Linked DNA regions of Homo sapiens: region 2 is linked to region 1. The links come from fine-mapping of genetic effects on gene expression. A gene starts in region 1. The other region holds a variant in brackets. All regions are shown on one strand. Distances are from middle to middle. Region 1 holds the start of SHPRH (SNF2 histone linker PHD RING helicase). Region 2 overlaps GRM1 (glutamate metabotropic receptor 1).

What was found. PIP is the estimated chance that this variant, and not a neighbour inherited with it, causes the effect.
Region 2: its variant is the best candidate, but not a certain one, in a credible set for the expression of SHPRH in whole blood (INTERVAL, PIP 0.58).

What each region holds. Positions count from the first base shown.
Region 1 is chr6:145,961,652-145,967,038 of GRCh38, reverse strand. SHPRH (SNF2 histone linker PHD RING helicase) reads left to right here and starts at 2,681. Exons shown (of 30, transcript NM_001042683.3): 1 at 2,681-3,308. RefSeq lists enhancers at 2,205-2,254, 1,806-2,793, 2,705-2,924, 3,035-3,164.
Region 2 is chr6:146,050,269-146,055,655 of GRCh38, reverse strand. The region is part of intron 1 of GRM1 (glutamate metabotropic receptor 1); the gene reads right to left. Among named protein-coding and RNA genes, the nearest start is that of GRM1, 24 kb to the right of the region's middle. The variant A/G (reference allele first, on the strand shown) is at 2,977.

The sequences.
Region 1 (5,387 bases):
CTGTCATATCTTCAGACCCCACTTCTAATTCTAGCTCTCTTGCTGTTTCCACCACATCTGCAGTTACTTCCTCCATTGAAGTCTCAATCCCTTCAAAGCTGAGACTTTGAGTTCCTGAGAGATGGAATCAACTTCTTCTAAACTACTATTAATGATATTTTGACCTCTCCCACCAATCTCAAATGTTGTTAATGACATACAGAATGGTGGATGTTTTCCAGAAGTTTTTAATTTACTTTGTCTAGATCTATCAGAAGAATTCCTATCTATGTCATCCATAGCCTTATTACTTCTTAAATAATAAGATGTCAAAGTTAAAATTACTCTTGATCCATGGGCTGCAGAATGGGTTTTGTGTTAACAGGCATGAAAACAACATTAATCTCCTTGTACATCTCCATCAGAGCTCTTGGGTGACCAGGTGCATTATAAATGAGCAGTAATATTTTGAAAGGAATCTTTTTTTTTTCTGAGCAGTAGGTCTGAACAGTGGGCTTAAAATATCCTGTACATCTATGCTGTTAAGTAGATGTGCTGTCATCCACACTTCATTGTTCCATTTATAGAGTACAGACAGAATAGATTTAGCATAACTCTTTAGGGCCCTAGGAGTTTCAGAATGATAAATGAGTATTGGCCTCAAATTCAAGTCATTAGCTGCATTAGCCCCTAACAAGAGAGTCAACCTGTCCTGTGAAGCTTAGAAGCTATGAAAGTCCTAGATGGCCTTTTCTTTCTATAGAAAGCTGTCTTATCTACATGGAAAATCTGTTGTTTTGTGTGGCCACCTGCTTCAATTATTTTAGCTAGATCTTCTGAAAAACTTGCCACAGCTTCTACATCAGCACTTGCTCCTTCACCTTGTACTTTGATGTTATGGAGATGGCTTCTTTTCTTAAATCTCATGAACCAACCTCTGCTTGCTTCACATTTTTCTGCTACAGCTTCATCACCTCTCTCAGCCTTCACAGAACTGAAAAAAGTTAGGGCCTTGCTCTGGATTAGGCTTTGGCTTAAGGGAATGCTGAGGCTGGTTTTATCTTTTATTCAGGCCACTAAAACTTTTTCCATATCAGCATGAGGCTGTTTCGTTTTCTTATCATTTGTGTTTTCATTGGAGTAGCACTTTTAATTCCCTTCTAGAACTTTTCCTTTGCATTCACAACTTAGCTAACTTTGGTACAAGAGGCCTAGCTTTTGGCTTATCTCAGCTTTTGACATGGCTTCCTCACTAAATTCCTTCGGTTTTCGATTTAAAGTGAGAGATGTGCCACCCTTCCTTTTACTTGAACACTTAATAGTCCATTGTAGGGTTATTAATTGGCCTAATTTCAATATTGTTGTGTCTCAAAGAATAGGGAGGCCTGAAGAGAGGAAGAGAGACAGGCGCCAATAGTGAAGCTTTCAGAACACACACAACATTTATTAAGTTTAGCATCTTCTATGAGCAGAGTTTGTAATGCTCCCAAAAAACTACAATAGTAACATCAAAGATAACTAATCATAGATCACCATAACAGATGAACAGCAAGTGAACACATGCTGCTTGAAAAATGATGCTGACAGACTTGCTTGAGTAAGGTTGCCAAAAAACTTCAATTTATAGGAAAACATATTATCTGCAAAGTACAATAAAGGGAAGCAAAATAAAAGGAGGCGGGGATTTGCTTATGGAAACAGCTTCGTATCTGTGATAAAGGAATATACTAAGTAAAATATGGACTACCCTGGACTGTCTAACACAACTACAACCGATATTCACTTGGACAAGAACTTAGTTCAAGTGCTTCTGTGGTCACACAACCCAAAAGGCCTCCACAGCAGAAAAGCTGCTATTAGGTACTCACTAACTAAGTACTGAGTCCCCAGTGTTTCCTGAGGGTTATTTCACAGGCTCCTGACCCTGAAGCCTCTCAGAGTTATTCCAACATTAAGGTCACTTCTATGAGGAAGAGGTGAGAGGAAAAAAGACCAATAGTGGAAGGCCAGCTTCAGCGCAACACATGTATTTAATAGTTTCTCTCATCTTTGAATATTTATTCACATTTCCCTTTAAAGTCTGTTTTTGAGGGGGAGAAGCTTTATTCGTACCTACTTAGTGGCTGCTTTATAGCAGTAAAATAGATGCTTTTGCAGAATTCTTTTCTGCTTTTCTTTTGTGAGACGGAGTCTCATTCTATCACCCAGTGGGGAGATGTCGGCTTACTCAATCTCTGCCTCGCAGGTTCAAGCATTCTCCTGCTTCAGCCTCCCGAGCAGCTGGGACTACAGGCGGGTACTACAGGCGCGCACCACAACGCCCGGCTAATTTTTGTATTTTTAGTAGAGACGGGGTTTCGCTATCTTGGCCAGGCTGTTCTCCAACTCCTGACCTCAGGAAATCCGCCCGCCTCGGCCTCCCAAAGTGGTGGGATTACAGGCGTGAGCCACCGCTCCTGGCCCCTGCCTTTTTATTAGAGATACAAATCACACACGCCCTTCGCTTCAAGGGGAGCCCCGCCCCCTACTTCGGGCATTCGGCCATCCTGTGTTCTCTAATGGCGTGGGGCAGAGCTATCGCGAGACTCCACTGTATCCTCAGCAAGTTTTTAACAGTGTGAACTTGCGCAGAAGAGACTCATGAAGCCAGCGCAGGAGAAAGGGGGCGGGGTGCTCTGACGAGCGCGTTCGCCTTGACCCCACGCTACAGCGCGCGCCCGGCAGCTAGGCGCTGTGGTTTCTGGGTCTCCCGGGGGACCCCTACACGTTCCGGCAAAAAGCGCTCGTGCCCACCTCAAGCCCATGTTCGGTGGGTGGCGAATGCGTGCCCGTGATCTGCTGGGTCTGTAGAGGAGCGCAGGCCTGGTGCAAACAGACTCAAGAGGCTCGGAGAACCAGCTTGGGTAGGCGCTTGGGTGATGGAAGGTCAGGGGTCAGAGGTCGGGAGGGAGGGAGGGAGGTGGTCTTTGGCCTCCGGGACCAGGGAGGGAGGACGCTGGTTGTCCTGGAGCCCGGGAAGCTCAAGGGCTGAGAGGGAGCCGCTGCGCGAGTCTTCCCCACCTCTTCCCGATCCCGGACTAGCGAACTTCGGACCACCACGTCCCTCCGGGGATAAAGTGGGGTCGTGGGAAAGGAGGCTGTGCTTCTCCTCATGCACTGGGGCCTGCGGTGTTTGTCTCGAGCGTCCAACACACTAGGATCCGGGAGTCCGTCGTCACGCTCCTTGGCCTCGCGGTCGCTTGTTTGCTCGGCCTGCTGGGAGCGATCCGGCGCTGACAGCCCCGCTCAGACTCCGGGAGCCGCTTGTGGGTCTTTCGGAAGATAACTGAGTGGGTACCGTGCGCCGCAGATCTACCCCCGGAGGCTGGAACTGGGTCGCCGCCTCCCTTCTTTGTGCGCGGCATTGTATTAGTAAAAGGGGAGGCAGAGGTTTCTCAGTCCCACTCAAAGTTCTCCGTTACCTTTGGAGCCAGATTAATTACATTCGAATTCAGAACCACTCTTTGACATTGTACAGTTTGACTGGTAGTTGCTATGTTTATGAACGAAGATAGGGTGTTATTTGATGATTAATAGTCACTGTATAATGATCAGTTAAATAATGACCAGGAAGCTTGTGCCCTTTTTCCAAGTAGTTTGACATTAGCACGAGGTAGAAATCCGAGATGTTTGATGCCTTCCAACTTGTACTTAAGGAACTTAAGGAACTTGGGGCTTTTTCTGAACAAAATAAGATAAAGTTATTACTGTTACTTTAAATTATTCCAGTGGGCATTAGTAGGAATGATGAAACTCTTGAATAGAAACGATCCATGATATCTCTACTGTCACAAAAAAGACTATTTAGTTTATGATTAGTAAACATGCTGGAGACAGAGCAGTCCTGAGCAGTATTGTAATGATTATGTCTGTGCTCGATAACCTGCACTTTCTAGAGCTTTAAAGGACCAGTTAACCAGTAAGCTGGCAATTGAGAATAAAATAGTTTACTTTTGAGAGATGCTCTTGTATATCCTCTTTGTCCACCCGAAAGGAGCTGGACTTACAGAATTATTAAAACAAAACTTTTATTATTAAGAGTTTAGGCCAGTAAGATTTAGGGGAAACAATTTGCTGGTGAAAAAGCTTCTTATGAGGGCATTTTTAAAGTTTATGTAACTAGCATATTTTAGCATTCAGTAGAAGAAAATACTCTCACCTTGCTGGAATTATTTCTACAGAAAAGGAAAAGATTATGTTAACCCTGGGTCATTAAGAGCTTCCTAGTACTTAGTAATGAGTGGGCTTCATTTCCATAACACAACATTTTGGACAGGAATATGGCAAGTATGTAATCCTTTTTGCCCTTAATAGCCTAAACCCAGATCTACCATGGATTTGTTGTAATTCAAGATTTGTGTGTATCTTTTAAAGAGGAAATAATATTTTGGAGGGAAAAAATGTGAATTTAAGTTGTGTTATTCATTTGTTGGATTGTCTTAGTAATGTAACATTTTATGTTTATTTTTCTAGCATTCCATCCTTGTTTTCTGTTAAAGATACAGTTCAGGCAGTTTTCCCTGCCTCGTTCTAGTATTTCATTTTTCTCAGAAATACTAGTTTCATATTACCTATAGTCTTCTAGAATGTGGATAAGAGAGACTTCTCCAAAAAGAAATAAGAGTAAAGTATCGTTAGGTCCTCAAAAGGAGGGAATACATCCACGGAATTAGAGATCTTTGTTTCACCCTTTTTGTATGTCTTTACTTCCTAGCACTGACCTGGCATTGGGAGTACAACACTGAATAGGATACTACTCCTGCCCATCTTTCAAAGTGAACACTCTAGCAGTTGGGATCGAGGAGAGAGAGGCCCTTAACTCAGCTTCTCTAGTCATGGAAGCCTTTCCAGGGAAGATTGGGATGGAGACAGGCATAAAAGCAATTCAAGCAAAAGGCTTTTATATTTAAATACAAGACAGTAAAAGTGCGGTCCATATAGAAAACTTCACATAATTACGTTTTACCCAAACACTGCTAATTAAGGAGGAGGAAGAAGTAGTTGTGACTGATAAGGTATGAATAAAACCAGAAGAATATGGGATGTGGTTAGATACAGAATTTCACCAGTACTTGACTTACTAGTTGCCAAATTGCATTTTAGTCATAAGTATATTTGACCAAATACTATTTTCTTTGGTTCAAGAAGTTAACCCTGAATAGAGATTTCCTTAAGTAAAGACTCAGTCAAAACCAGGAGCTTTTTGTTTGGTTGGTTGATTTTTGATCATGAATGTTTACTCAGTTAAGAACTGGACAAAGGGAGAGCATTGCTAGAAATTCTGGTGTTGACTTTTCTGCAGTTTATCATTATCACTGATAAGTACCTTGAGGCACTAATATTGGAAGAATCAGGCTGAAAGAATACAT
Region 2 (5,387 bases), 89 kb before region 1:
TCAGAAAAGAAGCACACCTCCCCAGCCCTTCAATTCTGTTCCCACAAACACAAACACATACCACTCAGTGAAAGACTCATTGAATTTGCATTTAAAATTTCAATCCAAGAGTTGATATCTATAAAAGAAAGAATAATAAAGTTAACACGACATGTTAGGAATTGAAAGTCATGATTTTGGAATAACTTTGATTTTGGATGAAATTTCTCATTCTCAGGAAAAATTGTTTAATGGAAAATGAAAATAAGAGCACGCTTTCCTAAAAATTAAAAAAAGGTGTGGTTAGTTATTTCAAATGTATTTAAAATATTAAAATATGTAAGACTTAACTCAACATCCATGCTAGAGGTTGGGCCACAGAACTTCCTTATGTGCCAGTTGTATCCATAATATTATGCTAGAAGCAATACACACATCTAAATACCACTCATCCTATTTATTAACCTTAATTTTTCCCAAAAAGTATGGCATAATTCTGTAAGCAGATATTCAACATACATTTTCAAGTATACATTTATTCAACATGTTTTAAAAAAATAGCTCATATGTGCCAGGTGCTGTATTAATTGCCCGTAACACAGTATGAACAAGAAATGCAGATTCCTACATTTATTGGAAGCTTAGCGTGAACCCAAGGCAAATCGCCCCATTCCTATCTCCTCACTCATCCAGCACTCAGCTCCCCTCCACCCCCAATTATTACCCGCACCCATCACTTGCCCTCCACACCCACCCCTGCATCTTCCCTGCCATAGCAGATAAGAGAGACAACTGTCGCTGACACTAACAATGACACAGACTTCCCTCTCCTTAAAATCCCTAGTTTTTTCCTCTGGGGAAAAATTATACACACATATGTTGTTCTGTCAGTTGAATCTTTGTCCTATTCTTTCTATAAAACATTTCTGGTAGAGCATTAAAAAACAAATATAAAAATATATATTGCACCCAGTGTACATTGGATCTCCCAATGGCTGTTGGAGTCTAACAACCGTCTAAAATGTTTCTTTCCCTTTCTCCTCTCCATAAATGTGAGAAATGAATGTCTATGCCCCCTGACATAAACTATGTTAGGCTGAACATTCTGTGAAGAGCATATAGAGAATTGTCTATGGATAGAATATTTTACTGCTGACAGATAATTTTGGATAAAATATAAGGTACAGAAAGGGAAAGCTGGTCAGGAAAAGCAGAGCTTGCTATGGAAACAGCTTGCTACCTCCATAGAAAAATTAAATCTGTTTTATAATTATTATATTTTATATAATGAAATATATCACTGCTCAATCTGAAAATATGGGAGAGAAAATATATGATGCTTGTTTTCCATTTCTTCTTCCAATCATCCAGAGAATGTAAATAATGAAAGAGTACTTTGAGTACTGGTAGATAATTCCATGACAGTTTAAGTGAAAAAGCTGATACTTTCATGTGAGAGTAAATCAGAACAAATCAAACATCCCTGTGCACCTTGCAAGGTATAAGACACATTGCTGACAGCCCAACAAATCATGAGTATCTAAAATTCAGGGGAATATCAAGGTTCTGTAATTTATTGTCCTCTATTTAAGCAGGATTTAAATAATCTATATTAAGAAGTATATCTTATTCATTTTTTATCTCTCATAGTCAATAACTGTTGGATTTAATTAAATGTCAGAAGCAAGTCTTTAGTTTATTGAGATTTAGCTCAGACTGGTACTGTGTAGCTAAGCAAAAAGTAGAGGGTTTCTTTGAAAGTCCTACAAATGGTATTCTCCATACATTATATGGAACCTCCTTATCTCTTCAGTTAAAACTGAGGCACATTCATATACTAATAATATCACGTACATAGTGGTCCCAAATTTGGCTGTGCAGCAGAATTACCTAAGGAGGAAGGGGATTATAAAAATATGAGTCCCAGAACACCATTCCCAGCATGTTTTGCAATATCCCCAGATGTTTCTAATTGCATGCATTTGGGGATCACAGGTGGGGATGAAAGAGCCCTGGACCAAGAACTGGGTTCAGAGATCTGCTGTGCCACAAAAAAACTCACATAACGTTCAGCAGGATTCAGTCCATCAGTCCTTTATTCATCCTTCAAGCATGCATGAAAAACAAACTATTATATCTCGGTTTTTAACTTCCTCATCTGCAAAATGAGGTTCCTGGAATAGATAATCTGAAATCCCTTCAGCCTCTAAGTCGATCCTATAATCTACATTATAATCATCCCACCTACATTTGTCATATATGCCTTACATAAAGTAATTTAAATCAGTTTTAAGCTCTCTATTGAATTAAATTCTGCAAATATATATTGAAAAATATATTATGACCAAGCATAGCACAAAATCAAAGTTCTGGAGACATGTTGGGCAAAACCTTGTACAAAATATTGCTTCTTGTATTCTAAATTCTCAATAAGTATTGTGAAGTGAATGATTTAAAAGAAAGAATAAAAAAATAAAATTTGCTAAACCTATTTGAGCCTTAATTTCCTAAATGAAATAAGCTAGGTACAAAAAATTACTTTTTAAACCAGGGGTATAAAAGAAGTTTCCATCTGAAGGCTAATGATGGATAACTGAGAATGGTGCTGAGAACTATGTTACAGAATCTGGGAGAAAGGGTACCGTAGGTCAATTAGCAATGTCTAGTCACATATTTGTCTTTCCTGTTATAAACATAAAACCCCGGGGTTTTTTTATTTCAAAAATGTATACTTCAAGCTTTTGGGGCATCAGGCATTGTTCTAGGTTCTGGAAATATGACGGTGTCCTGTTAGTAGGTGAGTATAACAACAAATATGTAAAGAATTGCATAAATGAGATAATTTCCAATAGTAGGAAATGGCACAAAGTAAACACAACAAAGCAACAGGATAGAAAGTGAAAGGGGAAGGGTTATACTTTATATAGAGAAGGGATTCCTGAGGAAATGATATTTGAATTAAGATCTAAATGAAAAGAAGCAGCCAGCCACAAAAAT[A/G]GCTGAAGAAAGTGGATTTCAGCTGGAGGAAACAGCCAACACCAAGGCATTAATGAGGGTACATCCTTCATGTGCTCAAGGATGGCAAGGAGACCCATGGCTGAGTGGGATGGGATAGGTGATACCAGATGATACTAGGCAGACTCACCCTATACATTTGCAATGCTAGACACACTCTTTACCCCTTTCTCTCCCTAACTCCCCATCCTTCTCCCCATGGGAAGGGCTGTGAACACCTGAGTCTGATTTCCAGGCTCCAGCAGAGCCTCCACGGCTGGGGCTGGGCATCTATAGGTTTTAAAGCTCCCTAGATAAATGTAATGAGCAGCCAGAAGTGACAACCAGTGCCCTAAACAAAAATTAAAAAATAAAAACTTAAGTTATAAACAACAGAGAGGCTGAATTTATGGCCCATAAATGACTAAGAAAATGGAATGTAATAAAGTAAATATAATATTGAGGAAAGTTTGGTTACAGAAATTGCTCCCAATCTCTAATTCTTTCCCTCAGACAAATAAAGAACATGTTTTCCTCACAGCCTCACAACTCTGATTTAAAATTTAAAAAAATCCTACTTTGTAATGTCAATTTATTTAAACTAACATTTTCAGCCTATGTACAAGGAGTTGTAATAAGTGCTATATAAATCAGAAGAGATATAAGATATATCCTACTCTCGAGAAAGTTACAAGCAGCATTACAAATATCTGGTTTCAGCCTTATGATCTTGTTGACATGACTTCAGCCTCCACCACCCTTTGCAACTGGTATTTTCTTCCCAGTGCCTTTTCAAATCGCAACCTTGTACAGAGTAGAAGCCATTAGTTTATATAAACCAAGAAGATTATATAAGGGTGCTTGGGAAACAGTAGTGATGATGATTAAAGATGATTCTCAGGAAACTTCAGGAAATGCTATACATATGTTCATAGCTAAAATCCACTAACAATTATGAAATAGGAATAACCTTTGATGTCTTCCAACTGGCCTGTGAAGGACTGGCTCCCCGCTGCAGGCACTACTCTGTCATGACCCCCTAACCACTTATCTGAAAATCTTGAAGTCATAACTGATCATAGCTTTAAGTGCTATATTTTCCAAAGGCATTACCTTTTAACAGGAGCATATTAAACACTGCAAATTTTCCAGATGCAAAGCAGTCAAGGGATGGGAGCAGTTAGATGCCTAAGAGGCTCTCAGTCTATTCTCTATATGAATCTTCCTCTTTTCCCCTTTATCAGTAAATTATGTGCTAGCTCCAGTGTAGGTCTCTGAAAAAGACTTAGGATGAGCACTGTATCATATTTACAGATGGAGGGGAAGTCACTTCCAATAGAAGCTAACCACTGTAGGATACACAATATCAGACCACCACCTTATTAGCTTATGTGTGTATGTTTATGTATTTTATTGAGTTCTTATTATATGCTAGCCATTATCTTGTTAGCTGCATGAGAAGTAAGTACAATTATAATCTCTGGTTTGCAGATTTGAGGAGTAGGTTTAGAGAGTCTCAGTGACTCACCTAAAGTCACACGGCTCTAAGATAGGGTAAGAAAGCAGATGTGTCTGAGTCCAAGTCTCCTTATTAACCACTAATCCCCCTCCTTCATACCCAGACTTTTTATTATGTGTCTGCTTGAACTATAACTACAAATGGAGGAACCAAAATTTAAAAGGCTAGTAGCTCTTTTGGTAAGCCAAAGTCACTGGTAGACCTTCCCAGGAAGGGTTGATTGCAACGCTCTGTTATGAAACCATAGACTCTATGTATCCTCCTCACTGGATCACAGGTTCACAGGTCATCAGCTTTATTTGGTCCAATCAAATGAGCCTAATACCGGAATTCCTTCCACAAAAGCAAATGAACAAACAAACAGGAATCTCATAGGCATATGCCGTAATCACACTAGGGACTAAGTAAGAGAGGCTGGCTTCTGCATGAACTAACACTACAATGGAAAATTAATTGGCAGTGTGTAGATTCTGCTTTGGAGAATGAGCAGCTAAGAGTATTGTCAAATTTCAAAATGCAGTAAACTCCCATTACTAATGCCCTGGAAATTTCCAAAGAGAAGATATAGCTTTTCTTCCCCTCCCCCCTCTTAAAAATATCCCTTGTTTTTAGAAATATGGATATGTTTGTTTCTTTTAATTATAGAATTGTTCTAAATACAGAAGAAAAGAAGGCATGTCTTTTTATCATCATTTCCAGGAGTTACTGTGTTTGAAGGTTTTTCAAGGATCAAGTGTGCTTTAAAACAAATCAGTGTGTAGCTACTCTTACCCTCTGACAATGCCTCCCTCTATCTGTTACTTGCAGCCAAACAGGAGCAAGCTTTAGAGTAGAACTGCCTTTTCTAGAGAGACACACATTTTCTAGAGAGACACACATGAAGAAAACAGAAAAG